Homo sapiens: one gene and its partners. The protein of the gene in region 1 interacts with the protein of each later gene in a pairwise test. Each region holds a gene or a part of one and is shown in the gene's direction. Other genes may lie near its edges. The genes, in order: PLSCR1, BCL6B, DTX2, DEPP1, PGLS, CCER1 and CCDC33.

The links.
Region 2: the proteins of PLSCR1 (region 1) and BCL6B interact in a two-hybrid assay, tested with the Homo sapiens proteins (one large-scale study listed by BioGRID).
Region 3: the proteins of PLSCR1 (region 1) and DTX2 interact in a two-hybrid assay, tested with the Homo sapiens proteins (one large-scale study listed by BioGRID and IntAct).
Region 4: the proteins of PLSCR1 (region 1) and DEPP1 interact in a two-hybrid assay, tested with the Homo sapiens proteins (one large-scale study listed by BioGRID and IntAct).
Region 5: the proteins of PLSCR1 (region 1) and PGLS interact in a two-hybrid assay, tested with the Homo sapiens proteins (one large-scale study listed by BioGRID).
Region 6: the proteins of PLSCR1 (region 1) and CCER1 interact in a two-hybrid assay, tested with the Homo sapiens proteins (2 studies listed by BioGRID and IntAct).
Region 7: the proteins of PLSCR1 (region 1) and CCDC33 interact in a two-hybrid assay, tested with the Homo sapiens proteins (one large-scale study listed by BioGRID and IntAct).

What each region holds. Positions count from the first base shown.
Region 1 is NC_000003.12:146,517,644-146,520,607, reverse strand, and holds part of PLSCR1 (phospholipid scramblase 1), read left to right. Parts: intron 1-2,964. UniProt on the Homo sapiens protein: Catalyzes calcium-induced ATP-independent rapid bidirectional and non-specific movement of phospholipids (lipid scrambling or lipid flip-flop) between the inner and outer leaflet of the plasma membrane resulting in collapse of the phospholipid asymmetry which leads to phosphatidylserine externalization on the cell surface.
Region 2 is NC_000017.11:7,026,050-7,030,144, forward strand, and holds the end of BCL6B (B-cell CLL/lymphoma 6 member B protein), read left to right. Parts: intron 1-407; coding exon 408-572; intron 573-655; coding exon 656-786; intron 787-900; coding exon 901-1,038; intron 1,039-1,453; coding exon 1,454-1,570; 3' UTR 1,571-3,595; downstream 3,596-4,095. UniProt on the Homo sapiens protein: Acts as a sequence-specific transcriptional repressor in association with BCL6. May function in a narrow stage or be related to some events in the early B-cell development.
Region 3 is NC_000007.14:76,496,209-76,499,708, forward strand, and holds part of DTX2 (probable E3 ubiquitin-protein ligase DTX2), read left to right. Parts: intron 1-1,128; coding exon 1,129-1,269; intron 1,270-3,500. UniProt on the Homo sapiens protein: Regulator of Notch signaling, a signaling pathway involved in cell-cell communications that regulates a broad spectrum of cell-fate determinations.
Region 4 is NC_000010.11:44,976,010-44,980,060, reverse strand, and holds DEPP1 (protein DEPP1), read left to right. Parts: upstream 1-1,251; 5' UTR 1,252-1,443; intron 1,444-2,005; 5' UTR 2,006-2,030; coding exon 2,031-2,669; 3' UTR 2,670-3,933; downstream 3,934-4,051. UniProt on the Homo sapiens protein: Acts as a critical modulator of FOXO3-induced autophagy via increased cellular ROS.
Region 5 is NC_000019.10:17,510,193-17,514,448, forward strand, and holds the start of PGLS (6-phosphogluconolactonase), read left to right. Parts: upstream 1-1,456; 5' UTR 1,457-1,480; coding exon 1,481-1,768; intron 1,769-4,256. UniProt on the Homo sapiens protein: Hydrolysis of 6-phosphogluconolactone to 6-phosphogluconate.
Region 6 is NC_000012.12:90,952,377-90,956,519, reverse strand, and holds the start of CCER1 (coiled-coil domain-containing glutamate-rich protein 1), read left to right. Parts: upstream 1-1,343; 5' UTR 1,344-1,777; coding exon 1,778-2,998; 3' UTR 2,999-4,143. UniProt on the Homo sapiens protein: Regulator of histone epigenetic modifications and chromatin compaction into the sperm head, required for histone-to-protamine (HTP) transition.
Region 7 is NC_000015.10:74,270,826-74,274,325, forward strand, and holds part of CCDC33 (coiled-coil domain-containing protein 33), read left to right. Parts: intron 1-877; coding exon 878-969; intron 970-1,945; coding exon 1,946-2,066; intron 2,067-3,500.

The sequences.
Region 1 (2,964 bases):
CTTTCCCCCATTGACTTCATAATCTAATGACAGAGATTTGCAGTTCTAAGGAGGATGTGATATAGAAACTTTAAAAAGGCTCTTATAAGGGGATTATATAATGTGTGTATGTATATGTGTGCATAATATGCATGTATAAAAATTTTATGTAAGGGTATGCATAATAGCAGTTCTTCATGTAAGGGATGGAATCTCTGTCCTACATCCAGAGAAGTGAAAAGTAATTTCTCATTCAAGGAACAATATTAACAGAAGTTTGGCTGGCATATATTTTATTTTTAGTAAATAAATGAAAACACTGGAAAAACATTGTGTAATCCTTGTATTTGATACTAAAAAATTTATGTTTCATCTGGCAGTCTTTCTTGATGGATACCTTAAAGCATCCATTCCATGTAATAAATTAACTTTTCTTCTATTTATCTAGAATGATGATATCAAGGTACTCTCATGGAAAGAATTGAGAAATAGTCACTTGAAGAATTTTCCATAGAGTTGACAATGGAAACTTTGACACCTCAAAGCAGAAATTATCAGTATGAGGGACCACTAAGGAACATGAAATCCACCAGGGTGTCACTGGGCATGGAAACTTGAAGTAATAAAAGAGATAAAAGCCTGTTCCACAGCAGGGGCAGGAGTCATTCTAAAACAGAGAATAACTCAAGAGGCATTTCATAGGTGTACTATGTGGAACTAATTCATGGATTTGATATCAATTGAGGATGAAAAAAATTTTGGAGATAAACTTGATGTGTTATTATTCTGATATTACATTGGCCAAGTTAAGAATCTTGGAGGAAAAACACTTGATTTGTGTCCTCTTGACCATTATGATAGTCTGCTTTTTAAAAAGTAAGGTATCAAATACTAATACACATCTAGGTCAGGGATCAGCAAAATATAATCAATGAGCTGTAGTTGATTATATAAAATATATATGGGAAGTTAATGACTTGAATTAAGGTCATGTTGGATTTTAGTTATGTATAGGAAAAGAATGGAGAGTTTTCAGCAAACAGACAGTAATTGAATCTCTAAGAAGGTTATCTTAATGGTGAGTAAGAGAGAGCCTAGTAGACCTTTTATCCAATATAGGTGATAAGAGAGTCTGTCTCCTTCAAGGACTCTTGGTAGGGGGAAAAAATATGGCCACATGAAACTGACATACCAAGTCAGCTCTGTCTATGAGCTTGAAATCTGAATTCCTGCCACTGTTGTGTTTCAGGAATCTCAAAATATAGAAACTGATCCTGAGTAGTGATAAATTTTATATGGTCAACTATAGCCCACAGATTTTTTTTCCTGCCCTCTCAACTAGATTTTCATTAGTATTCAATAAATATGTTTTTAAAAAGCAGACAATCCTAATGGTCAAGAGTATAGACACTGGAGCCAGATGCCCAGGTTTGAAACCCATCTTCACAACACTTATCTATGTGACTTTAACAAATTCTTTCACTTCTCTTTGCTTTAGTTTTTTTACATGAAAATTGGGTGTAATAACAGTAAATAAATAAATCATTAGTAAGTAAATAAAATAGCTTACCAGCAACTATTAATATACTCATGATACACTTTTTATATTTCTTTGCTACATACCTAGATCCTATATGCTGTCATTATATTTCAGTATTTTGCATTTATATTTGCATTGTGAGATGAATCTATGGTTTTCTTTTTAGAATGCTTTTACCAATTAGTATTGCACTCATGGATTTGAAAGTTTAACATTATACAATACCAATTTATTATTTCCAAATGTTGACATTTTATTATAGTGATTTTCTATTCCAAAATGTCTACAATTTAGCTAAAAATTATCTAGTCCTGCTAATTTATTGGTTGAAGATCATTATTTGCATTTCTTATCCTTGCCATAAAAAATGTATTCTCTACTTTGTTAAATTTCTTGCTGTAGTAATCAAAAAGGGCAAATGTTAATATCTTTATCTGTATAGTGTTGAGTTTACGGTGGCTAGTAAGTTGTCAGCTGCATTTTTCATTTTTTTAAATTTCAGAATTAAAAAATAAAACATAAGAGTTTTCATTACTAGCTTCAAATGCTTCAATGACAGCTATTAGCAGAAAAATACTAACATGTACAAGAAAGGATTTGTATTAGTTTATTTCACCACAGTAGTATTTCATTACACATAATCCCTAAAACTCAGCAGCTTGCAATAAGTGTTTATACTCATGCTTATGGGTGTGTAGGTCAACTGTGTTTCAGTGGATGTATTTAAGCACTGACTTAGGCGCATGTTAACCTCAATCTGCTCCAGGTAGATTTGTTCTATGGCTGTAGCAGCAGCAGCTACCTGAGTCATGCTTTTCTAGTGGCTTGTCACTGAAGATCATAAGCCAGGCCAAAGCACTTAGCCAAGTTTAAGGACACTACTCATGTCATATCTGCTAACACCCGTTGTTCAAACAAGTAACATGGCCAAGCCTAATTATGAAGGAACAGGAAGTATACTGGCCCTACAGAAGGAGAGGGAATGAAATGAATATTTGATGAACAGTATTATGCTATCAGCTTCATATTAGATGTTTATTTCTAGTATTTTACAAACTATCCACTTGTACTCAAATAAAATGAGTCAAGTATTTTTAGATTCCCCACATTTATTTAGCTGAAAAGGACACTCCTCTGTTAATACAACTATATGTGTACATAGTTTTGTGAATTTCAGCTACATTCAGTCCCCACCTGCCCTCCTAGAGGAGTTGCCTTAGTCTGAGCAAAGTCCATTCAACCCTATATGATGGCCCTGGGCTTTCCTCAGGCAGAATTGTAAAATTAGGAAACTTCTACTTCGGAGCTCATTTGTTCATACACTCTTCATCTTTTATTCACACCCCACTAGTTATCCACTCTCAACCTCAACCCTTGGCGTGGGGCATTTCATCAAGTTACTTATTGGTATTTGCCTTTACTCCAAACTGCTAATCTTTTCTAGG
Region 2 (4,095 bases), on another chromosome or scaffold:
TAGCTGGGACTACAGGCACGTGCCACCACACCCAGCTACTTTTTGTATTTTTAGTAGAGACGAGGTTTCACCATGTTGGCCAGGATGGTCTCCATCTCTTGACCTTGTGATCCGACCGCCTCGGCCTCCCAAAGTGCTGGGATTACAGTCGTGAGCCACCGTACCTGGCCCCCACCACTGCTATTGAAGAGGAGATTAGCTGAGTACTCGAGTCAGACAGATGTGCAGTCAGATCTGGCTCATCTTACTATCTTCTTACTTGGCCTTGAGCAAGTCAAACCAGCCCCAGAAGTCTTAACAATAAATTGGGAAACAGAAAGCCTGCTACTGTGTGGTTTGAGGATTCAGTAGTACCTAGATAGCCCTCATTAATAACTATGGTTGCCGTCACCCATTCCCCTTCCCAGGAAGTGAATTTTTCAGCTGCCAGAACTGTGAGGCTGTGGCAGGGTGCTCATCGGGGCTGGACTCCTTGGTTCCTGGGGACGAAGACAAACCCTATAAGTGTCAGCTGTGCCGGTCTTCGTTCCGCTACAAGGGCAACCTTGCCAGTCATCGTACAGTGCACACAGGTAGGGGAAGAGAGGGCCCTGGCCTTCAAGCCCACAGCTGTCCTAGGGCAAAGTCCCTGATCTCCCATGTTCTCTGCCTCCAGGGGAAAAGCCTTACCACTGCTCAATCTGCGGAGCCCGTTTTAACCGGCCAGCAAACCTGAAAACGCACAGCCGCATCCATTCGGGAGAGAAGCCGTATAAGTGTGAGACGTGCGGCTCGCGCTTTGTACAGGTACGGAGCCAGCCTCCAAGTGGCTTCCAAGGCAAACCTGCAAGAGGTGGGGTGGGCCAATAGGGAGGGTTCTGTTCCTCCCAGAGGCAGGACTTGAAGTCTCCTCCCTCCCAGGTGGCACATCTGCGGGCGCACGTGCTGATCCACACCGGGGAGAAGCCCTACCCTTGCCCTACCTGCGGAACCCGCTTCCGCCACCTGCAGACCCTCAAGAGCCACGTTCGCATCCACACCGGAGAGAAGCCTTACCACGTGGGTACCCAACCTGGCCTGCCCACTGCCTTAGAATTACCTCTCCTTTGCCTAGGGGTGGGCTCTGAGAGGTGCGGGCCTGGCTGTCCCTAGATCTCTTAGAAATGAGCGGTGGCCGGAAGAGTCCAAGCAAATAAGGGGTGGAGGCTGGGAGTCAGGATGGGCAGGTATAGAAGTGATGCTCCTGGGCTGAGCACTGTTTTCTCAGAGAGGAGCTGAGAAGTGGGAAAACCTTTGCTAAATAAGGCGGGGCCTATCCCCTCAGCCACCCCTGAGGATTTGGGAGGATGTGAGAGTCAAAGAGCTGATCTTCCGCTGGATAGTTCCCACCTGGGAGAGCTGGACGGCCGCCCGGCTCAACACCTAAAAGGTGATTGTGGATGGGGCAGGGCCTGACTTGGCTGTCCTCCCACAGTGCGACCCCTGTGGCCTGCATTTCCGGCACAAGAGTCAACTGCGGCTGCATCTGCGCCAGAAACACGGAGCTGCTACCAACACCAAAGTGCACTACCACATTCTCGGGGGGCCCTAGCTGAGCGCAGGCCCAGGCCCCACTTGCTTCCTGCGGGTGGGAAAGCTGCAGGCCCAGGCCTTGCTTCCCTATCAGGCTTGGGCATAGGGGTGTGCCAGGCCACTTTGGTATCAGAAATTGCCACCCTCTTAATTTCTCACTGGGGAGAGCAGGGGTGGCAGATCCTGGCTAGATCTGCCTCTGTTTTGCTGGTCAAAACCTCTTCCCCACAAGCCAGATTGTTTCTGAGGAGAGAGCTAGCTAGGGGCTGGGAAAGGGGAGAGATTGGAGTCCTGGTCTCCCTAAGGGAATAGCCCTCCACCTGTGGCCCCCATTGCATTCAGTTTATCTGTAAATATAATTTATTGAGGCCTTTGGGTGGCACCGGGGCCTTCATTCGATTGCATTTCCCACTCCCCTCTTCCACAAGTGTGATTAAAAGTGACCAGAAACACAGAAGGTGAGATCACAGCTCTGCTGGCAGAGATTACTAGCCCTTGGCTCTCTCGTTTGGCTTGGGTATTTTATATTATTTCTGTCATAACTTTTATCTTTAGAATTGTTCTTTCTCCTGTTTGTTTGCTTGTTAGTTTGTTTAAAATGGAAAAAGGGGTTCTCTGTGTTCTGCCCCTGTAATTCTAGGTCTGGAACCTTTATTTGTTCTAGGGCAGCTCTGGGAACATGCGGGATTGTGGAATTGGGTCAGGAACCCTCTCTGGTATTCTGGATGTTGTAGGTTCTCTAGCAGTCTAGAAATGGATACAGACATTTCTCTGTTCTTCAAGGGTGATAGGAACCATTATGTTGAGCCCAAAATGGAAGTAATAATAAATGCCTCCTGGAGGCTGTGGGTGTGGGGGATTCTGTATCTGGATTCCGTATCACTCCAAGTGGAGGCTGGCAGGTTTTTCTGCAAGATGGTCCAGAATCTAAAATGTCCCATTAATCTGGTCACTTGGGTTTGGCTCTGCTGTATCCATCTATAGTGGTAGAGACCCACCAGGGCTCAAGTGGAGTCCATCATCCTCCCACGGGGGCCTGTTCTTAGCACTGAGTTGATCGCTCCATGGGGGAGAGATCAGACATTCCTTATCAGAGATGATGTGACCTTTTCTGACTCTGCCCAGTCTCTATGAATGTTATGGCCTAGGGAAGAATCATGAAACTCTTTAGCTTGATTAGATGGTAAACAGTGTTAACCCATCCTTTACTACAGAGGCATATGGGTTTGAATGTTACCTGGGGTTCTCTCTATTGAGTTGAGCCCCTTCTTCCTTTAGTGGGTTTTGGACATCTTCTGGCAAGTGTCCAGATGCCAGAACCTTCTTTTCCTCTAGAAGGGATGGTGCTTGGTAACCTTACCTTTTAAAAGCTGGGTCTGTGACCTGGTCTTCCCATCCCTGCATTCCTGTCTGGAACCAGTGAATGCATTAGAACCTTCCATAGGAAAAGAAAAGGGGCTGAGTTCCATTCTGGGTTTGCTGTAGTTTGGTTGGGATTATTGTTGGCATTACAGATGTAAAAGATTGACTAGCCCATAGGCCAAAGGCCTGTTCTAGTTGACCAAGTTTCAAGTAGGATTAAGAGGTTGGTTGAGGGGTGCAGTTTCTGGTGTAGGCCAGGTAGGTAGAAAGTGAGGAACAGGGTTGCCTCTTGGCTGGGTGGAGTCTCTGAAATGTTAGAAGAAGCGCTGAAGCCTTGATTGATAGTTCTGCCCCTTGTTGCCCTGGGGCTTATCTGATTATGGGACGAGGGTAGAAAGTAAGAAGCACTTTTGAATTTGTGGGGTAGAACTTCAACAATAAGTCAGTTCTAGTGGCTGTCGCCTGGGGACTAGTGAGAAAGCTACTCTTCTCCCTCTTCCCTCTTTCTCCCCATGGCCCCACTGCAGAATTAAAGAAGGAAGAAGGGAAGGCGGAGGAGTCTATAAGAAGGAATCATGATTTCTATTTAGCAGATTGGATGGGCAGGTGGAGAATGCCTGGGGGTAGAAATGTTAGATCTTGCAACATCAGATCCTTGGAATAAAGAAGCCTCTCTGTGCTGCCTGCTGTGTCCTGGGTTCTTGCCTTGGGGGACTCGGGGAGCGAGGAAGAGAGCTCTTCCTCCTGGATAACATCTTGGATTCTGTACCATTCCACTGTCCCTTCCCACCAGACATTTTAAATGGTCCTCGTTGTCCCCTTCCCTGCCCTTGCCTTCCTGCTCATTGTGTAGGAACCAGTGACTTCATGAAGTTTCTCCGGAGCCACCTGCATCCTGCTGCTCTGAAGTCACTTCCTGCCTGAGGTGTGGAGGCTGCAGGGAGAAACCAGGAAGCCACTAATAATATCAAGAGGCCGGGGCGTGCATCTGTGCTGGAGATCTTAATGCTGGCGACATGCCTCCATCACCAAGGAAGATGGATAAGAGTTGGGTCCCGTAAAGACCACAGGGGCTGGAGGTGGCACTGAGAAGACTGAGTTAGAACTAACGGGCCAGCCCACCCTCCCCCAGCAAGGGTATCTTGAATCTATCCAGGGTCCAGTGCATGCATCTCTCCCACC
Region 3 (3,500 bases), on another chromosome or scaffold:
CCAGGCACATGTGCCGGGTTGAGAAGCTTTGTTCTTCTAGTGGGGGCGCAGTGGCTGGCCTGGCCGCCCTTCACCCCTGAGTCACGCCATCTGTTCCTGGATGGGGAGTGGGGTCCAGGAGGACTGGGATTTCTACCAACTCCCCCGGCAGCCGGCTGTGCCCAGCTCCTGAGCCAGGTTCTGCAGACCCTGGAAGCCACCTTAAGAGATGGCTAAGAAGCTCTAGGCTTCCCCTTTCTCTGGAGAGGAGGTGCTTTTGACCTAACTGACCGATGACAGGGAGGACCGGGGAGCTGGCACTATGGAAAGTGGGGTAGGCCGAGGGTGTGGCAGGAACGGGTTCGTCCAGCAGGACACGCTGTGTCCCAGGAAGCGCTGGGTCATCAGGGAGCACGAAGGAAGCAGTGTCAGAGGAGAGTCCCCCAGGGCAAGTGTGGGGTTCCCTGCAGGCATCCGGCAGTGGTGAGCTCTGGAAAGAGTGGCCGGTCTGTCCCAGCATAGCTGCTGGCCACAGGCCCACCCTTGCCCGAGGGCGCCAGAGCCACAGCCTGGGGCCTTGCTGCAGCCCAGCCCTCACAGTATGGGGATGCTGCAGTGTGGGAGCAGGCCCAGGGGCCACGTTCCTGCCCGCCTACCCCAGCGCTGTCGCTGAAGGCCCTGGCACCCAGATCAGCCAGGAGGGGCATGGAGCACACACAGCACCCAGTGGAGGCTGGAGGCCTAGTAACTCCAAGCCAGGAGGGCCCAGGGCCTCCTGGGGAAGCTGAGCCCTTGGAGCCAGCCCCACCCAGGAGACCCCGTGCCCCGGGCGGCTTCCTGGAGTGGCGTCCTCCGCCCTCTGCTCTCCTGAAGTCACGGGTCCTGCCCCGGTGCCCACCTGCACACTGAGGGCACGGGCTTGTCTGTTGCTCCTATAGAAACCTGTGGGCTCTGGGGCCAGGGCTACCATGAGCCAGGCTGCCCCACCCTCTGATTCCTGGCCTGGGTAGTCCCCAGGGAGACCTGTGCGTCCCCGTGGCCATTGATGGTGTCACATCCTTGGCCTGAGCAGGGTTTGTTGGCGTCACATGCCGAAGGAGTCTTCTAATGTCTCTCCCTCTCTGCGTGTCTGCTCTCACACCCGTGCAGGCATGACGAGTGTTCTGATGTCAGCCATTGGACTCCCTGTGTGTCTTAGCCGCGCACCCCAGCCCACCAGCCCTCCCGCCTCCCGTCTGGCTTCCAAAAGTCACGGCTCAGTTAAGAGATTGAGGAAAATGTCCGTGAAAGGTAGTTCTTGTTCCCAAAAGCTCTCTGGCCTTTGCTAAGCCTCCTTCCGGCCTCGCTGCCTCTGACTCTTCTGCACAGACCCTCTTCCTTCTCTCTGCTCCCTGACTCCTGGGGGAAGGGGCTCAGTGGCCCTTCTCCCTGCCCCCGCTCGGCAGCAGAGGCGGCCCCTGGAAGCTGACTTTCCACCGCAGCCCCAGAGTTCAGCTCCTCTCCTCCAGTCACAGCTGGCATGAGGGGGCTTGTTCTTGAGGACTTTGTGATTTTTGTAAGCAACAAGTTGTGGGTGAGAGGCGGCGCCCGGCTCAGGATGCGGGGACAACCGTCCCTTCCGCCAGGGCCAGCACGTGTCTCGGGAAAGGCCCCCAGACAGCGGCCCAGGTCTGCTGCCCAGGTCTGCTGCCCTGACCCCCAGCCCTGTGTGGCCGCCACGTGGGCTGCTTGAGAGGGGTCCCTCGGTGACCCCTGCCCTGCTCGTTGCATGGCCACAGAAGAAGGGGCTTTAGGACCACAGCAGGTCCAGGGAGTTACAGCAAGACCTGCTCGGAGCAGCCTGTGATGGTCAAGTTCTGAACCTTTCCCAAGCGGGTGCTGGCCCTGCTTCCACCCCTGGGCTGTGGAAGTGTGGACTGTGGCCAGTCCAGACGCTCTTGAGTGGGCGTGGTGGCGGGCAGGGAGGGTGGCCGTGGCCCTGCTGGCCCTCAGTGTCTGTGTCATCTCAGCAGGTCCTCTCGGAGCCTCCGCTTAGCAGAGGGGCTTGGCGAGGTCTAGGAAATACTCGAAGCGCCTGGCATGCGGCAAGGGTGGCTTCCGATCGTGTCCGACCTCCAGCCCACAGGCGAGGAGGTGGGCTCAGGGAGGGGTGGGCCTCGAGCTCCTGCCCCCAGCCCAGGGCTCTGCACGCCCTGCCCTTCCCCTGCCCTGGGGGAGGAGCCAGACTCGTTGGCAGCCCGGGCTGGCAACCTTCTGTGGCACTCGGGTTTACCTGGGAAGGACACGCTCTTGGTGGGTCGCCTGGCTGGCCCCTTCTGAGACACGTGGCTAATGGAAAGCTCCCTTCTGCTCTGAAAAGCTGCAAGGGCTGGGGTGGGTGGGCGGGGGTGGGATGCTGTGCCCGGCCTCACCAGGGCTGGGCAGAGGCGAGGCCCAGGCTCACCCGGAGATGGCTCTGGAGTTGGCAGGCTTTTCCAAAGGAAAAGGCCCCCCTCAGCCTGAGTAGGGCATTCCAGCCACACGGAGGGCGACCCTGAGCTGGGGGCCATCGTTCTGGTCTGGCGTTCTCGCCACCGTGACAGGATTTGGGTTCGGGCAGTCTGTATGGGTGTGTGGAGGTGTGGGGTGTGTGGGGTGTGTAGAGGTGAGGGTGTGTGGGGTGTGTGGAGGTGAGGGTGTGTGGGGTGTGTGGAGGTGTGGGGTGTATGGAGGTGTGGAGTGTGTGTGGAGTGTGTGTGGAGGTGTGGGGTGTATGGAGGTGGGTGTGTGGGGTGTATGGAGGTGTGAGGTGTGTGGAGGGGTGAGGTGTGTAGGGTGTGTAGAAGTGTGGGGTGTGTGAGGTGGGGTGTGAGGTGTGTGGAGGTGGGTGTGTGGAGCTGTGTGTGGTGTGTGGAGGTGTGAGGTGTGTGGAGGTGTGGGGTGTGTGGAGCTGTGTGGGGTGTATGGAGGTGTAGGGTGTGAGGAGGTGTGGAGGTGTGGGGTGTGTGGATGGGGGTTGGGGGGTGTGGTCTTGCCAGCAGTTTCCCTCCAGGTCACAGCAGCCATGCCATCACAGCAATTCCAGCTTGGTTACATATTCGTCTTTCCCGTTTGAGATCAGGGAACCGAGGCTCAGAGGTGGCATGATTCGTTCACAGCAAGAGAACTAGAATTAAACAAACCGTGCCGACTCCAGCCTCCACCCCACCACGCCACCTCCCTGCCAAACTGTCCCCTCCCTGGCCCTTTTTGGTGTAAAGGGAGTTCAGCAGGTGCAGTTGTGAGCCCTCAGGCTTAGAATTCTCTGCAGCCCCTGAAGGCCGTGAGCTTGGATTCAAACCAGAGCCCCTTCTGGTCCTGGAGTCTGGGACGACCGCAGCCCCACCATGACCTTGGGGTGGAGCCCCTGTCAGGAGCGCCTCCACGGGTGGCACTGGGCTCCCCGTCCCTCTTTCACCCCCGCACGGGCTTGGCTGCTGGCTTCTGTGGTTCTGCTACTCCCACTACCTAGAGAACGCCCCGGGCCGCGCCGATCCTCACCA
Region 4 (4,051 bases), on another chromosome or scaffold:
GGCAGGCGTGTTCCAGGTGGGGCTGTGGCTGGGGCAGAGGATCTGTGGCCTGTCTGGGGAGTGCAGGAGCTTCCCAGGGGCTGCCTCTCTCATCCTTGGCAGCCTCCTTTGCTGGCATGGTCACTCCTGGACAGATGCAGTGGCTTTCTAATGTTGCCCAGGTGCTCCTTGGCAGCCCCCCAGCCCCAGCCCCAGCCCAGTCCCAGCAGCTGCAGCGATCCTTTGAAGCAGAAGCCAGACTGCAGTGCCCTTGTTCAAACCCTGCAGTCTTTCCCTCCCTCCTAGAGGGAAACACAGCATCCACCCCAAGGTCCACTGACCCCCTCCTACATGGGCCAGTCTGCAGGCCCCTTGCTGTGCCCTGAGCATGTCTGTCCGGCGCGCCCTCACCACAGGGGCTTTGCACGTGCTGCCCCTGCCACCTGGAATGTGCATTTTCCCATTTTTTTCAGGTTTCTGCTCCAATATCTGCTCTTAGGGAAGACACCCCTGACCACTGTACCTGTGGCGGCAGCCCACCACAGCATGCCACTGCGCTGCTTTCCTTCAGGCAGTTCTTGCTGTTGCCTGAATCACAGCACCCATTCATCTCTGGCTTGATCTCCTCCCTTACTAGAATATGAGCTCCAGGGGGCCACACCTTTGTCCGCTGCTACGTTTGCTGTGCTTAGTGCATTCACAGCACACACTAGCACCTCATATCTGGTGAACAAGTAAACAAACAAATCCTCCGAAAGCACCCCATCTGGGGTGTAAGAAGACCAGGGTCAGACCCCGCAGACCGCCCTTGGTCCCTTGCGAGCAGGGTGTGTCTCTCCTAGGAGCAGGCCTAGGGACCCAGCCTCAGCTGCCTCCAGACTGGGGTCCTGTGCTGCTGATTTTTCATCAAAGTTGCCAAGGACCTGGCCCAACTTCACAGGAGTCATGATGGGGTGGTGTAACACAGAGTGGGAAACAAGCTTTGGGGCAGGGGTGGCCCTGGGGCTACCTGTGAGGGCCCAGTGGAACCCCTCCCTCTCCCAGTGCCCCTACTTGACCAGCAGTGAACCCACCCCTTTCCTGCCCTGCAGCGTAAACATTCCCCAGCCTCCTACAGGCAGAAAAACACCTCCAAGCTGGCAGCTGGGCCAGGCCCCGCCCACCAAGCTGTTTTCCTAAGACAGCCTTCCGAGCAGGCTATTTTTGGCCCTCGTGACAGTGATTGATAGCTGCTGGGAAGGTATAAAAGCAGCTTGCCTGCGAAGGTTCTTCACACTGCTCAGGGAAGAGCCTGCTACGGTGGACTGTGAGACTCAGTGCACTGTCCTCCTCCCAGCGACCCCACGCTGGACCCCCTGCCGGACCCTCCACCCTTCGGCCCCCAAGCTTCCCAGGGGCTTCCTTTGGACTGGACTGTCCCTGCTCATCCATTCTCCTGCCACCCCCAGACCTCCTCAGCTCCAGGTAAGAGAGAGCAGCTGCCCTTGGGTTTGAGACAAAACACAAGGGCTTTGTTTATTTTTGAGGGCAATTCCCAGCCTGAACTTGCACAGCCTCCCTATGGGTTAGAGACCAGGGCTGTCTGTAGAGGGCTTTGCATTTATAAAGGGATTCAGGGGTTATTTCATGCATTTCCTACAACATCCCGGCCAGGGGTATTTATAACCCTGTTTTATGGATGGGTAAGTGGAGGCCTGGAGAGGTGGCCTTGCCAAAGGTCCCATGGTCAGTGCGTGGCCGATCCTGGTTTTAAACCCAGCCTTCCTCTGACCAGTGTTTGTTAGGTTAGGTTCTCTTATCTGTGCACATTCTGAAACGATAATGATAAAATCTTAAGCCTTTGGGGTTTTTAACCTGAACAGGAAGAAAAGATCCCAGCAGTCGGAGCTCTGGTCTGGGCTCTGTAGACTTCAAATTGCTCTCAGGGCACCGGATTCCTACAGGCAGCCCCAGAGGAGTGTGGTGACGCTGAGGGGCGGTGGGACGCATGGCAGGCCCTCACCACCAGGCTTCTGTTTCCCAACAGGTTGCCACCTCCTCTCGCCAGAGTGATGAGGTCCCGGCTTCTGCTCTCCGTGGCCCATCTGCCCACAATTCGGGAGACCACGGAGGAGATGCTGCTTGGGGGTCCTGGACAGGAGCCCCCACCCTCTCCTAGCCTGGATGACTACGTGAGGTCTATATCTCGACTGGCACAGCCCACCTCTGTGCTGGACAAGGCCACGGCCCAGGGCCAACCCAGGCCACCCCACAGGCCAGCCCAGGCCTGCCGGAAGGGCCGCCCTGCTGTGTCCCTGCGAGACATCACCGCACGTTTCAGTGGCCAGCAGCCCACACTGCCCATGGCTGATACTGTGGACCCCCTGGACTGGCTTTTTGGGGAGTCCCAGGAAAAGCAGCCAAGCCAGAGGGACCTGCCAAGGAGGACTGGCCCCTCTGCTGGCCTCTGGGGTCCACATAGACAGATGGACAGCAGCAAGCCCATGGGGGCCCCCAGAGGGAGGCTCTGTGAAGCCAGGATGCCTGGGCATTCCCTGGCAAGACCACCGCAGGATGGGCAGCAGAGCTCTGACCTAAGAAGCTGGACTTTTGGGCAGTCTGCCCAAGCCATGGCCTCCCGCCACCGCCCCCGCCCCAGCAGTGTCCTCAGAACACTCTACTCGCACCTCCCGGTGATCCATGAACTCTGACCCCTCCCCAGTAAAGGCTTCTGTAGAGAGCATGCTGGGTCTGCATCTCCTCTCGTCTCCTCCATGGTGGTCACTGCCCCTGGCAGGTCTCTGAAAGGGAAATGCTTTTCTGCAGAGGCCCCTGCTTGGGCAGTTCACAGTGAGACCGACCCCCTCTGAATATGATAACAGCCTGTTTCACATGAGGAGATGTTACCAATCCCGTTCGCTCTGACCCTTGCTGGCTGATCACCTTGAGCAACTTACTTAACATCTGTGTTCCTCAGTTTCTCATGGGTAATATAGGGATAATTACTGGCACCTGCCTCCCAGGCCATTCTGACGTGTAACCGCATATAGGAGCCCACTGGCTGAGTAGCTACCATCATCGCTGGTGGGGAAACTGGTGGTAGGGGTGTGAGGGTAGTGGGGGTGTCAGCCCCCCAGGTGTTTCAGAACAAGGCCTCGGGCACTCCCAAGTCTGCCTCTTGGCTCCCACCCTCAAAGCCCATGTTCTGTGAGGCCCAAGAGAACACATGGAGTCTTAGCAAATGCACTAATGTATTCCGGGGGACTGTCACCTGGCACCACTGGGGCACTCTGCTGGCTACAACTCATACGTCCTGTGGTGGCATTGGGAGAGTTCCCCCATGATGAGGGCCAAGATAGAATCTGTACCACTCAGTGCTACCATCCCCACCCCTACACCACTTCCACACAGGGGCCTCATGGCATGGTCAGGGTCCCAGCTGTGGGTGAGAGCAGGGCACTGTCCAGCTGTCCACTGGGGAAGTCAAGATGTCCTAAGGCCCAGGTCAGGGCATCTGGAGTCTGAAGGACCCTAGTTCCTAGAGGCATCTGGCAGCAAGAAGGTGAGGCATCAGGGAACGGGAATCAGGCTGGGACTGATCAGAGGTGAAGGGACAGAGAGAGGAGAGGAGGAAGATTGAGCTGGGGGCAACAGCCAAGCTCACCTGGGCAGGTCTCTGCCACCTCCTTGCTCTGTGAGCTGTCAGTCTAGGTTATTCTCTTTTTTTGTGGCTATTTTTAATTGCTTTGGATTTGTTAAATGTTTTCTGTCTTCTGTTAAGTGTGTTTTCTCTGGAGATAGAATGTAAACCATATTAAAAGGAAAAAGTTTCAGACAAGCAATTACCCAGTTTCCTTATCTATAAAATGGGGACATCAGCAATGTTCTTCACACCCTGCAAGGGCTGGGAATCTGCGCATGTGAACTTGGAGCTGCATTTATGAGCACTGTAGACAAATGTTTGTATCTGTCACAGCCCACTGTGTCTCTGTGGTGGTCTCAAACCTGCAGGTCCCTGACTTTGGGCAAACGTGTGGGGCAGCCTTTAGCCGGGGCAGCCTTTAGCCAATCATCATCCTCGGGAGAGATCCAG
Region 5 (4,256 bases), on another chromosome or scaffold:
TTACATTGCATCCGTAGACCAATTTGTGGAGTACTGCCATCTTAACAATATTATACTTTCCAATCCATGAACGTGGAATGTCTTACCATTTATTTAGATCATCTTTAATTTTTTTTTTCACCAAAGTTTTAGTTCTTTTGCTTGTTTCGAGACAGGGTCTCACTCTATTGCCCAGGCTGGAGTGGAATGGCAGGAACACAGCTCACTGCAGCCTTAGTCTCCTGGGCTCAAGTGATCCTCCCACCACAGCCTCCCAAGTAGCTGGGACCACAGGCAGCTGCCACCGGGTCCAGCCTTGGCTTCCCAACGTGCTGGGATTACAGCTGTGAGCCACCAAGCCCAGCTACAGCTCTCAAGAAGTACAGTCTTGTACTTCTTTTATTAAATTTATGCCTACTTTATACTTTATGATGCTATGGTAAATGGAATTGTTTTCTTAATTTGCTACTGATTTTAAAATCCACTACCTGTGTGAGTTGAACTGCGCTTACACACATCACTGAAATATCCCACTCTCAGAAGTGGCCCAGCCTCCCCAGGCCCACCAGGCCTTCTTCCCCTTCCAGCCCTCTGTCCAGGCAAGAACTCGATTGGAGGCCTTTCTGGGCACTCAGAGGGACACACCACCACACTAGGAGGGTTAGCTTAAAAAATTCAACAAGCATGGCCAGGCGCAGTGGCTTTCGCCTGAATGCTACCACTTTGGGAGGCCGAGGCAGGAAGATCGCTTGAGCCCAGGGGTTCAAGATCAGCCTAGACCATATAGCAAGAGCCCGTCCGTCCGGAAAATGTAAAAAAAAAAAAAAAAAAAATTCAACAAGCATATTTTCATCCCCTACTTTTTTTTGAGATGGAGCCTCGCTCTGTCGCCCAAGCTGGGGTGCAGTGGCACGATCTCGGCTCACTGCAACCTCCGCCACCCCGGTTCAAGCGATTCTCCTGCCTCAGCCTCCCGAGTAGCTGGGACTACAGGCGCCCGCCACTACGCCCGGTTAATTTTTTGTGTTTTCAGTAGAGACGGGGTTTCACCGTGTTAGCCAGGATGGTCTCGATCTCCTGACCTCGTGATCCGCCCGCCTCGGCCTCCCAAAGTGTTGGGATTACAGGCGTCAGCCACCGCGCCCGGCGGTGCAGGAATTTTAAAACTCACCAAAATACGCCCTCCTTCAGAAAATCCCTGCCACCTCGATAGGACGTCCTCTTCTTGAGCTCCCCTCTCCGGCCCTCCCTGATACAGCAAGGTTGAGCATTCGGGCACTGGCTTCCCGAACTCACTTCGACTCAGGCACAGCAGGCAAAGATTCAATGGGTAGGGCCGGACCGACTGCCCGACCTTCGCGGTGCTTCACTTGCCTCACTGCGCATGTGCCAAAGACAATCACCCAAAGTACTCGAAACCAAGCGGCAGGGCCGGCCCTTGCGCAGGCGTACTAGCGACGGCCGTAGGGAGCGCTTCCTCCTCCCCGCCGCCGCCCTCGCCATGGCCGCGCCGGCCCCGGGCCTCATCTCGGTGTTCTCGAGTTCCCAGGAGCTGGGTGCGGCGCTAGCGCAGCTGGTGGCCCAGCGCGCAGCATGCTGCCTGGCAGGGGCCCGCGCCCGTTTCGCGCTCGGCCTGTCGGGCGGGAGCCTCGTCTCGATGCTAGCCCGCGAGCTACCCGCCGCCGTCGCCCCTGCCGGGCCAGCTAGCTTAGCGCGCTGGACGCTGGGCTTCTGCGACGAGCGCCTCGTGCCCTTCGATCACGCCGAGAGCACGTACGGCCTCTACCGGGTGAGAGCTACGGGGGCCGCCGGGGATCACGCCGAGAGGGCCACAGCCACCGCCTACACCCCGGCTACGGAGGCCGCCGGGGGCCATGCCGAAAGGGCCGCGCCCACTGTCTGCACCTCGGCTACGGGGGCCACTGGGTATCATGCCAAGAGGGCCGTGCCCACTGCCTGCACCTCGGCTACGTGGGTCGCTGGGGGTCATGCCAAGAGGGCCGCGCCCACCGGTTGCCCTCGGCTACGGGGGCCACTGGGGGTCATGCCGAGATGGTCACGCCCACTGCCTGCACCTCGACTACGGGGGCCGCTGGGGGTCTAGCCGACAGGGCTCGCCCGCCTCCTGAACCCCGCCTACAGTGGGTCCCGCAGGACCTCACTGCGCCCTCTGCCTTTATCTAGGCAGGGCTAGAAATGGTCTACTTGCAGTCCGTCTTCCTGCTTCATCCGGTGGCCAGGCAGAGGGAACGGCACGGGCAAGGGCCTGGAAGGGAATCCGAGTGGCCCATGTCAAACGATGCCCATAACTCAGCCCCGTAGCGGACGGGGGCACGAGGAATCAGGTGTAGAGCCTGAATCTCAGGGTCCTGATCTCTAACCCCAGCGAGTTCTCGGGGATCCCTGGGCAGCTTTGCCGCTCTGATGGCTCTGCTTCCAGGCTGTTCATCTTTGGCTTTGAGCCTCAGGATTCTATAGAATCAGAGGAGCGCGCTCTTTTAAAGACAGGGTAACTGAGGCTTGGAGGAGCCTTGGCCTGGCCGAGGGAAGAGTGGGAGGGGCGGGCTCAAAGGCCAGGAACCTCAAGTCACTTGAGTCTGGCAGCGTCAAGGGACACCCCATGCTGGGTGTGCCGTCTTCTCTTTGCATAGAATCTTGAGCTGATGATGGTTTTGTGGGTTTTTTATTAAGAGAAAAGGCTTACTGAACGCTTTATATGCATCAATTCATGAGTCCGTACCACAGCCTATGAGATGTTACACTCATTTCACAGATGGAGAAACTGAGGCCAGAAGAGGTGAGCTTACCTGCCCAAGGCATCTAGTGACCAGAGGGGCAGCCAGGGTGTGATCCTGCCTCATCTGACTTCGTAGTTGGGTACACATTTAACTTCCGCCTTCCTGTGTGTGTTTTCCAAGAGCATCATTAAAAAGTTTTGGCCGGGTGCGGTGGCTCACGCGTGTAATCCCAGCACTTTGGGAGGCCGACGTGAGTAGATCACCTGAGGTCAGGATTTCGAGACCAGCCTGGCCAACATGGCAAAACTCTGTCTCTACTAAAAAAAAATACAAAAATTGGCTGGGTGCGGTGGCTCACGCTTGTAATCCCAGCACTTTGGGAGGCTGAGGCGGGCGGATCACGAGGTCAGGAGTTTGAGACCAACCTGACCAACATGGTGAAACCTGTCTCTACTAAAAATGCAAAAATTAGCCAGGTGTGGTGGTGCGCACCTGTAATCCCAGCTACTCGGGAGGCTGAGGCAGGAGTGAGGCATGATCAGTGAACCGAGATCATGCCATTACACTCCACCCTGGGCGACAGAGTGAGACTGTCTTAAAGATAAAAAAAAAAAAAAGCAGGTTTTTGGCCGGGCGTGGTGGCTCATACCTGTAATCTCAGCACTTTGGGAGGCCAAGGATGGTGGATCACCTGAGGTCAGGTGTTGGAGACCAGCCTAGCCAACATGGCAAGACCCCATCTCTACTAAAAATACAAAAATTAGCTGGGTGTGGTGGCGTGTGCCTGTAATCCCGGCTACAGGGGAGGCTGAAGCACGAGAATCGCTTGAATGTGGGAGGCAGAGGTTGCAGTGAGCTGAGATCATGCCACTGCACTCCAGCCTGGGCGACAGTTGAGACTCTGTCTCAAAATAAATAATTGTGAAATGCTGCAGAGTGCTAGGGAATAGGGAGTGAGCATTCGTCAAGGGCTATGGGGTGGGAGGTCCTGAGAAGGTGCCATTTGAGCTGAGAGCTGGAGCATGTGCAGGAGCTGGCCATGGTCAAGCTGTGGCAAGAGGGCTCAGCTAAGGCCAAAGCCGTGTGATGGGAGCAAACCTGAAGCCAGGACTTGCTCCTTCTGCCGGTTCTCTGTGAGGGGAATCATATCGGTTCCCTAGGGCTACATAACGAATGACCACAAACTGAGCGGCTTAAAGCCACAGGAATTTATTCTCTCACCGTTCTGGAGGCCAGAAGTCTGAAATCAAGGTGTTGGTGGGGTCACGCCCCATCTGAAAGCTCTTTGGGAGGATCCTTCATTTTCTCCTCATCTTCTGGGGGCTCTGGGCGTTCCTTGGCTTGGGGTCACACCATTCCAATTCCTGTCTCTGTCTGCACATGGCCTTCTTGGATTCTGTGTGTCTTCTCATCTTATATAAGGACGCCAGTCATTGGATTTAGGGCCCACACTAATCCACTATGACTTGTTCTTAACTAATTACATCTGCAAAGACCCTATTTCCTTCCTTCCTTCCCTCCTTCCCTCCCTTCCTTCCC
Region 6 (4,143 bases), on another chromosome or scaffold:
AGTGCCTTTACATATACTATATCATCTCTTTTAGAAGTCATGAAGTATTTACAAATAAGGATGATAGTTAACAGTTACTGAGTACTTACAGGGTACCTGCACTAAGTACTTGAAGGAATTACAGTAAGTCCTCACTTAGCATCATAGGTTCTTGGAAACTGCTACTTTTAAATGAGAAGACATATAATGAAACGTGGTTTTGTTATTGTTGTTGTTTTGCCTCAGCAACGTTATAAGGAAATGACATTGAGCAAAACATTAATATTAGAGGACCTGTTATATGCATTTAATTCTTTACACAACCGTATGGAAAAGGTAGTATAATCATGGTATGGGTAAGGAAACTGAGGCTTACAGAGATTAATAATTGGTGAGTTGAAGTTGAATCCCATTTATTTAAATTAAAACCCATATGCTTAACCACAATGCTTTAAAGGCTTCCCGTGTATATGCTGTATGGTCAGTGAAGGGACAAAAGGAAAGACAATCAGAATATTCCTCTTCCCAAGGACAAACCTGTGGTATTCATTATGGTAATAATAATATTTGTTTAATTGAGGTACACATGTACGGTATATTACCAATAGCAAAGTACCTTCCCAAATGTTATGTCATTTAGTTATCACAAGGGTCCTACTGGGGGTTTGGTAGAACACATAGCAATGTCATTAGGAACCTAACTTTTGGGTCAAACAGGTTTAGGCTTAAATCGTAGCCTGGAAATTTATTAGCCCCACAACCATGGGGAAATTAAGCTCTCAGTTCCCTCATCTGTGACAGGTGATAAGATACGCCTACCTCTCAGGGTAGATGACAGGATTATTTGTCAGTGAGCACATGCAATAATAAATGTTCGTGGTCTTGTTTTATGTATTATGAATCCCAATTCTCAGGAGTAAGAAGAGTTGGCACCGGCCAGAAGGTAAGAGGTTGGGCAAAGTTTCCTTTCTCCAGTAATTTTCCATGATCCCTTAGGCCCTCCAAAGGTGTAGAATGTGGGGTTTTCAAAACTCAAGTTCTCCCGCCCCCACCGGGTTCAGATGAAGGCCCATCTTCTAAACCCCCGCCTCAAGGTGATACAAAGCTTTCGGATAAACTGCCTCCAGACTTGCTTGAATTGAGCAGCAGAAACCCAGCCTGGACCCCTCTTCACCTCCCCCAAACGCTGCGTCACAAGCCCCCTGCGAATGTTCACCTGGAGCCTGGTTCCGGACAGAACCCGGCCTTGCACACAGGGAGGACGATTTCGACCCCAATTGGCTGTTGCCCTGGGTGACCAAGAACGCAGTGGGCACGCGGGAGACCACAGCCAGTATTTAAAGGCTGCCGCTGCCCTCGCCACCACAGTCCTGCCAGGACGGCGACAGTGAAGCACCTGGGTTGAGAGGGAGCAGCAGGTAACTGCGCAACCCCTGCCTCCCCCGGCCCCAGCCCGTGCCTCAGCAGAGCCGGGTGTGGTGGGGACCCGGGAGTGGGTCTCACTGCGTGTCGCCTGCCAACACCTTCCTCCCCCACCATCCTTACCCAGCCCCAGTCCCACCCAGCACACCTGGGCGAGACAACCCAGGTGCGAAGGACAAGCGATTACTACCGAAGAGCGTGCAAACCAGGAAGAGAGCAGCCTCCTGGAGAGGAAAACGTGATCCCAGGGGTAGACACGTGGCGCTGCGTGGAGAGACAGGTTGACGAGACGAGGCTCTTCTGACCGTCCTACCTGGCAAAACTTGACGACAGCTTCAGGTCGCTACCATCTGGACCTCTCGGAGCTCCCTGAACCATGACTCAGACCCTCGACACAAGGGAAGACCCTCTGAACCTGGGCGGCGGTGGCGGCGGCGGCTGTGGCTGTGGCTGGGCACACTCGGCCTCCTTGAGCTCCTGGTCGTCCTGCCATCGAAGGCGCCCGGGTGCTCCAGCGTACAATAGACCGCACCGATATAGCCCCAAGACCGAGTATGGGCCCCCAAGGAAGCAGCCGAAGCAACAGCACGGCCCGGGCTTTTGGTTCCAACCACCCGTGTGCTCTAACTGGGGGTGCTGGGGAGGGCCCTGGCGCCCACCCCCTCCAGGATTCTGGAAATTCCCCTGCCCGGTGCAAGTGTTTCGGGTGTATGGCCTGCACCCTCTCTGCTTTTGCTGCTGCTCCTGCTGGAGCGGGTCCTGGAACCCTGGCTGGGTGAAGCCCCCAGGCAGGAAGAAGCGCTGGGGCCGCAGAGGCCGCGGCCTGCGCCACCACCCTCGCCACTCCTACCCGCGGAGCCCGCCAGCGGATGTGAGCACGCTGCCGCGGCCGGTCAAGCTGTATGAGTGGAGAGAGCCTGGCATGCGAGCGCCGCCCAACACCACCCAATTCATCATGAACCAGATCTACGAGGACATGAGGCAGCAGGAGAAGGTGGAGCGTCAGCAGGAGGCGCTGCGGGCGCAGAAGGCCACGGTGAGCGGCGAGGCCTCCCCAGCCAGATCCTCCGGAAACGACGCGCCCCCTGGCGGCAGCAAGGAAACCTGGGGACTGCAGGAAACTCTGTATGGCTTTGTGCAGAATCCCTCTCTAGCATTCAGTCCCAACCCAGAGGAAAACCAGTCTCTTGCCCCGCTGCTGGTGGAAGAAGAGGAGGAGAAGAAAAATGATGATGAGGAGGAGTATGACCAGGAGGTGTGTGATGCAAAGGAGGCGAGCGAGGAGGAAGAAGAGGTCGAAGATGAGGAGGAAGAGGTCGAAGATGAGGAGGAAGAAGAGGTCGAAGAGGCTGAATATGTGGAGGAGGGAGAGGAGGAGCTGGAAGAGGAGGAGCTGGAAGAGGAAGAGGAGGTCCTGGAGGAGAACGAGCAGAGAGGGGAAGAATTTCACTTGCCTCTGGAAATGCCTTTATCAATCTTCGTAGAGGCTGAAGAAAAGAGAGAGAACTTTATAAGCTGCACTTTTTTAAACCCAGAGCAGATAATTCCCAAAGTGCCACAGGAATCCCTGTTCATGGCACAGGACTTTAACTGTTAGACATCAGAAAAGGGATTGAGAAAAGGGATGGAACTGATTTGAGGCTAAACTGGATTAGCAATTTATTAAAAACTGATTAAAAAGTGAGTTCCATTAATAAACAGATCTATGTAAACACCTTCTTTGGCCATTATAAAATGTTTAAAATTTGATGCGTATGTGTATGACTATGGGTGGGTGGTGGGGAAGCTTTCAAATATAATTTTACTGGAACTGATTAAAGGCCAAGTATTTTATTACTACCATTTGAATATTTTCATTTGGTGTTTTCCCCTCTAGAAAACAGAGTTGCTGTTGTTTTTTTAAATCTGGCAATGCTGAAAAAGCGTTTGTTTTTGAAACAAATTTATACAACTTGGCCACTTAATGAGCTTGGAATCAAGAGATAGTTTATTACATGCGTAAGAAGCACATTCTAACGCTACTAAATGTTCACCAGTGCTCTTAACATAACTGAAGCCATTTTCAATCCCTGTATTTTTTCAACAATATTTTTCCTCATAGATTTTTCCACCATCAGAGTTCATTTTTGAGGGTTATATTTTGTTAACCTCATTTGCAGGCTCTTGTGTCATCGCTTATTGATATTCCTTGTTCCACAGTGCTATGGATCTTCCTCAGAAGAACATGAAGTTGCTTCTGTGGAACTGGTTATCTGCCATGGCCTCAACAATCCATAATCCAGTCATGGAGAGGATTCCCCATGGTCAGAAGTCAACTTGCACATCTAGTTAAAGTCCAAGGTAACTGCAAACAGTGGAACATGGCTTAGGTTTTGAAGCCTCGTTATTGGATATAGTCTTTATCCTAAGTTCTGAGGAGCCATAAAAATAGTTTTCCAGAATGGATTTTTTTTTTTAGATAAAAAGATTATCTACCTTTTGGGGGTGGAATATCTTATTTTGTTTTTGAATTTGTCTTTGTTATAAAGAAGAGTAAAACAAAGATGTGTAAGTGTGAGTCTGTGTGAGCTAGTTTCTGATGTCTAAACAGCAATTACCTATGGAGAATACATCATTCAAAGTAATAGCTTTTGTTCAAACATTTTTAGGAAGTAATAATACATTTCTTCCTGGACAGTTGATAAAAGTTCCATCCATAGCATATTTCCAGAATATCCCTAGATGATGAATTTAAACATGCCT
Region 7 (3,500 bases), on another chromosome or scaffold:
CCACTCCTGCTTTGTAACCTCCTGCTGGGACCCCGCTCGGCTCTCTGAAAGCTGCGCCAATAGAAGCCTGGAGTAGAGGAGAGGGCAGTCAGGACTGGGAGGCAGGGAAGCCTTTAGGGGGTGACAGAGGACTGAGGAGGGAACAACCAAGGGCGGTCAGGGGAGTGACAACCGGGATCTGATGAAGAAAGAGGAGCCCAGAGATGCGGATGCTATGATCCTGTTCCAAACCAGTACTTCCTGGGGAAACCAGCAAGGCAGGAGAGCAGGCACCAGGGTGAGCAGTGGAGCAGGCACCAGGGTGATGGGCACGAGGGAGGCAAGGGGAGCCTGGCTGTGGCCGCTGATCTCAGGAAGTTCAGCATGGTCGGAGAAACCAGACCTGGGCTTCCTGTCTTCAGTTTATAAAGTGCTCTCTCACAAACGATCTAATCAGAGACCCCTCACAGCCCTGGGAGGAGCCTCATTTGACTGACAGAAACCAAGGAGCTGGAACACCTAGCCCTACCCCTAGCCCAACCCCTCCCCAGGAGCCAGTGGAGGGGCCGAGGTTAGAACACAACCTCCCTTCCCAGGACCCAACTCTCATCGTACCCTTTCTCCCCAAAGAAACTAGTGTAAGAGATCCATTGGTAAATCCCAGGACAGAAAGCGGGAGCAGTTGCCTCAGCTCGGCAGAGAAGGCTTCCTGAGGGAGGGCAGCCTGGTGCAAAGCAAGAACCGAGTAAGGCAGGGAACAGGGAGAAGCAGGTGTCAAGTGTGGAGGCAGCCATGAGCTCACGGATGGGGAAAAAGAGGGTAGGCAGTCTGGCTGGCTGTCTCTGGAAGGTCCCAAGGCCACATGGTGTTCACCTGCCTCCTCTCCTCTCCTCTCCAGATCTTTCTCCGGGGAGTCAACGAGCCCCTGGCCAACAACCCCAACCCCATAGTGGTGATTGCCCGGGTCGTTCCCAACTACAAGGAATTTAAGTGAGTGGGGCCCAGGTGGACCTGGGTGAGGAGGGCAGAGCAGAGGGCAGAGGAGGGGGTGAGGCTGTCATTGCTGCCATGGGCTGATTCCAGGACCTCCGGCAACCCCTCTACCCCTAAGGCCCTTCAAGCCTCTCCATTGGGTCTGAGGTCCCAGTAAGCTTCCTGCAGCAGACCATGCCTTTCTTTCCCCAGGGAGAGCCCAGGCCCCTGGAAAGGGGCAGCTCAGTCCTCTCCTGAGAGCAAGCTGGAGGGCAGGTGGTGGGGATGAGTGCCGATACCAGGCCTAACAGCTAGAGAGTGTGGGGAGGACAACAAGAGGGGTCCTCATTCCCTGCTCAGGGAACCTCAGCCCCTCCAACCTGCCTCCCTGCCTCACACCCACCACCTCCCCACTCCCCCTCCCACTCTAGCTCAGGGCCACAGGCTCCAGCCAGTGGTTGGCCCCAAAGGCCATCTTGGAACTTCACAGCCTTTAGCCCTGCCGGGCGGAGTCTCCTCCCTCCTCATCCTGGAGGTCTCCCTGGTCCCAGCCACAACTCATCCCCTCCTCCCCTAGACCTCCTTTTGAGTCTGTTGGAGTCACAGTCCTCAAGAGGAGATTCATACTTTGCCACACAGTGGGAAATTCCCCTATGAACGTGTGCTCTCTGCCACAGCACCGACTCCTGGGAGTCAGGGTCTGTCTTGGTCACTTCCAACTGGCCCTGATGGCCCAAGATGACTCCCCTACTTCTCTGTATCTCCTGTTGAGTTTTTATGACTTATGAAGCCCCCTTGCTTGTTGGAGGAAGGAAGATGATTGATGCACGCCCAGCCCAGTGGTCCCCACTTGTCGTGAGGTCCAGGCCCGAACTCGGCGGGATCCCTGCAACTCCCTTCTCTTGCATCAACCCAGAGTCTAAGCGGGGGGCCCTGGGCTGCCAGGCTCAGGTGCAGAGCCCAGAGCACTGACCCTGTCTCCCTGCCTCCCCAGGGTCAGCCAGGCTAACAGGGACCTGGCCTCTGTGGGGCTGCCCATCACCCCACTGTCCTTCCCTATCCCGTCCATGATGAACTTTGACGTGCCTCGCGTCAGCCAGAACGGATGCCCTCAGGTATGTCTCCTCCCCAGTGGTTCCAGCTTCCTGTAACTACCCCACACATTCACTGTTCACTCACTCAGTGAGTCAGTCAGCAGTTCCCTTGACTATCGAGTAAGAGTTGACTGAATCCCACGGCATACCCAGTGCTGTGCTCGCCTGTGCGGCAGAGAAACTGCCCTCCAGGAACTCTTGGTCTGGTGAAGATGGGAGTCACGTGGGTGAAAAAGTTGAACATCAACACAAGATAATGTATAATCTAATAACAAACTGGGAGGGCCTGTCAGGGCTATCACATCAGAGGAGAAGATACAAAAGGACAAATATATGATTCCACTTATATGGGATACCTAGAATAGGAAAATTCAGAGTCAGAATGTAGAACAGTGGCTACAGGGGCTGGGGAAAGGGAAGAATGGGGAGTTACAGGTCATAAGTACCTAGTTTCCGTTTCAAGTGATGAAAAGTCCTGGAAATAGATAGTGGTGATGGTTACACAACAATACGAACAAATGAATGCATTTAACATTACCGAACTGTACATTAAAAATGGCTACAATGGTGAATGTTGTGTTACGTATATTTTAACCCAGTAAAAAAATTTTTTTTGAGACAGAGCCTCGCTCTTGTCTCCCAGGCTGGAGTGCAGTGGCGCAGTCTTGGCTCACTGCAACCTCTGCCTCCCGGGTTCAAGCAATTCTCCTGCCTCAGCCTCTCGAGTAGCTGGGCTTATAGGCACATGCCACCATGCCTGGCTAATTTTTATCCTTTTAGTAGAGACAGGGTTTCACCATGTCGGCCAGGCTGGTCTCGAACTCCTGACCTCAGGTGATCCACCCGCTTTGGCCTCCCAAAAGGCTGGGATTACAGGCATGAGTCACTGCGCCCAGCGAAAAATTTTTTTTAATCAGAGGAGAGGGATGTAAAGCCTGGATTAGGGAAGGCAGTCTTGAATTTTTTTTTTTTTTTTTGAGACAGAGTCTTGCTCTTGTTGCCCAGGCTGGAGTGCAGTGGCACCATCTTGGCTCACTAGCAACCTCCGCCTCCCAGGTTCAAGCAATTCTCCTGCCTCAGCCTCCCAGGTAGCTGGGATTACTGGCACCCGCCACCATGCCCGGCTAATTTTTGTATTTTCAGTAGAGATGGAGTTTCACCATGTTGGCCAGGCTGGTCTCAAACTCCTGACCTTGTGACCTGTCCACCTCGGCCTCCCAAAGTGCTGGAATTACAGGCATGAGCCACTGCACTCAGCCGGCAGTCTTGAATTTTTAACAGAGGAAGGGTTGGTACAGGTTGGACACAGCAATAGCACAAGTGTGAGGTGGAGACAGGCAGGCTATGACCCATGTCAGGGCAGACAGGAGGGCTGTGTGTTTGAGTATGAGGTTGGGGGCGGGTGCACGCACAGAACATGGCTGGGTTCAGGGGAATAGCCAGATTGGTCTCTTC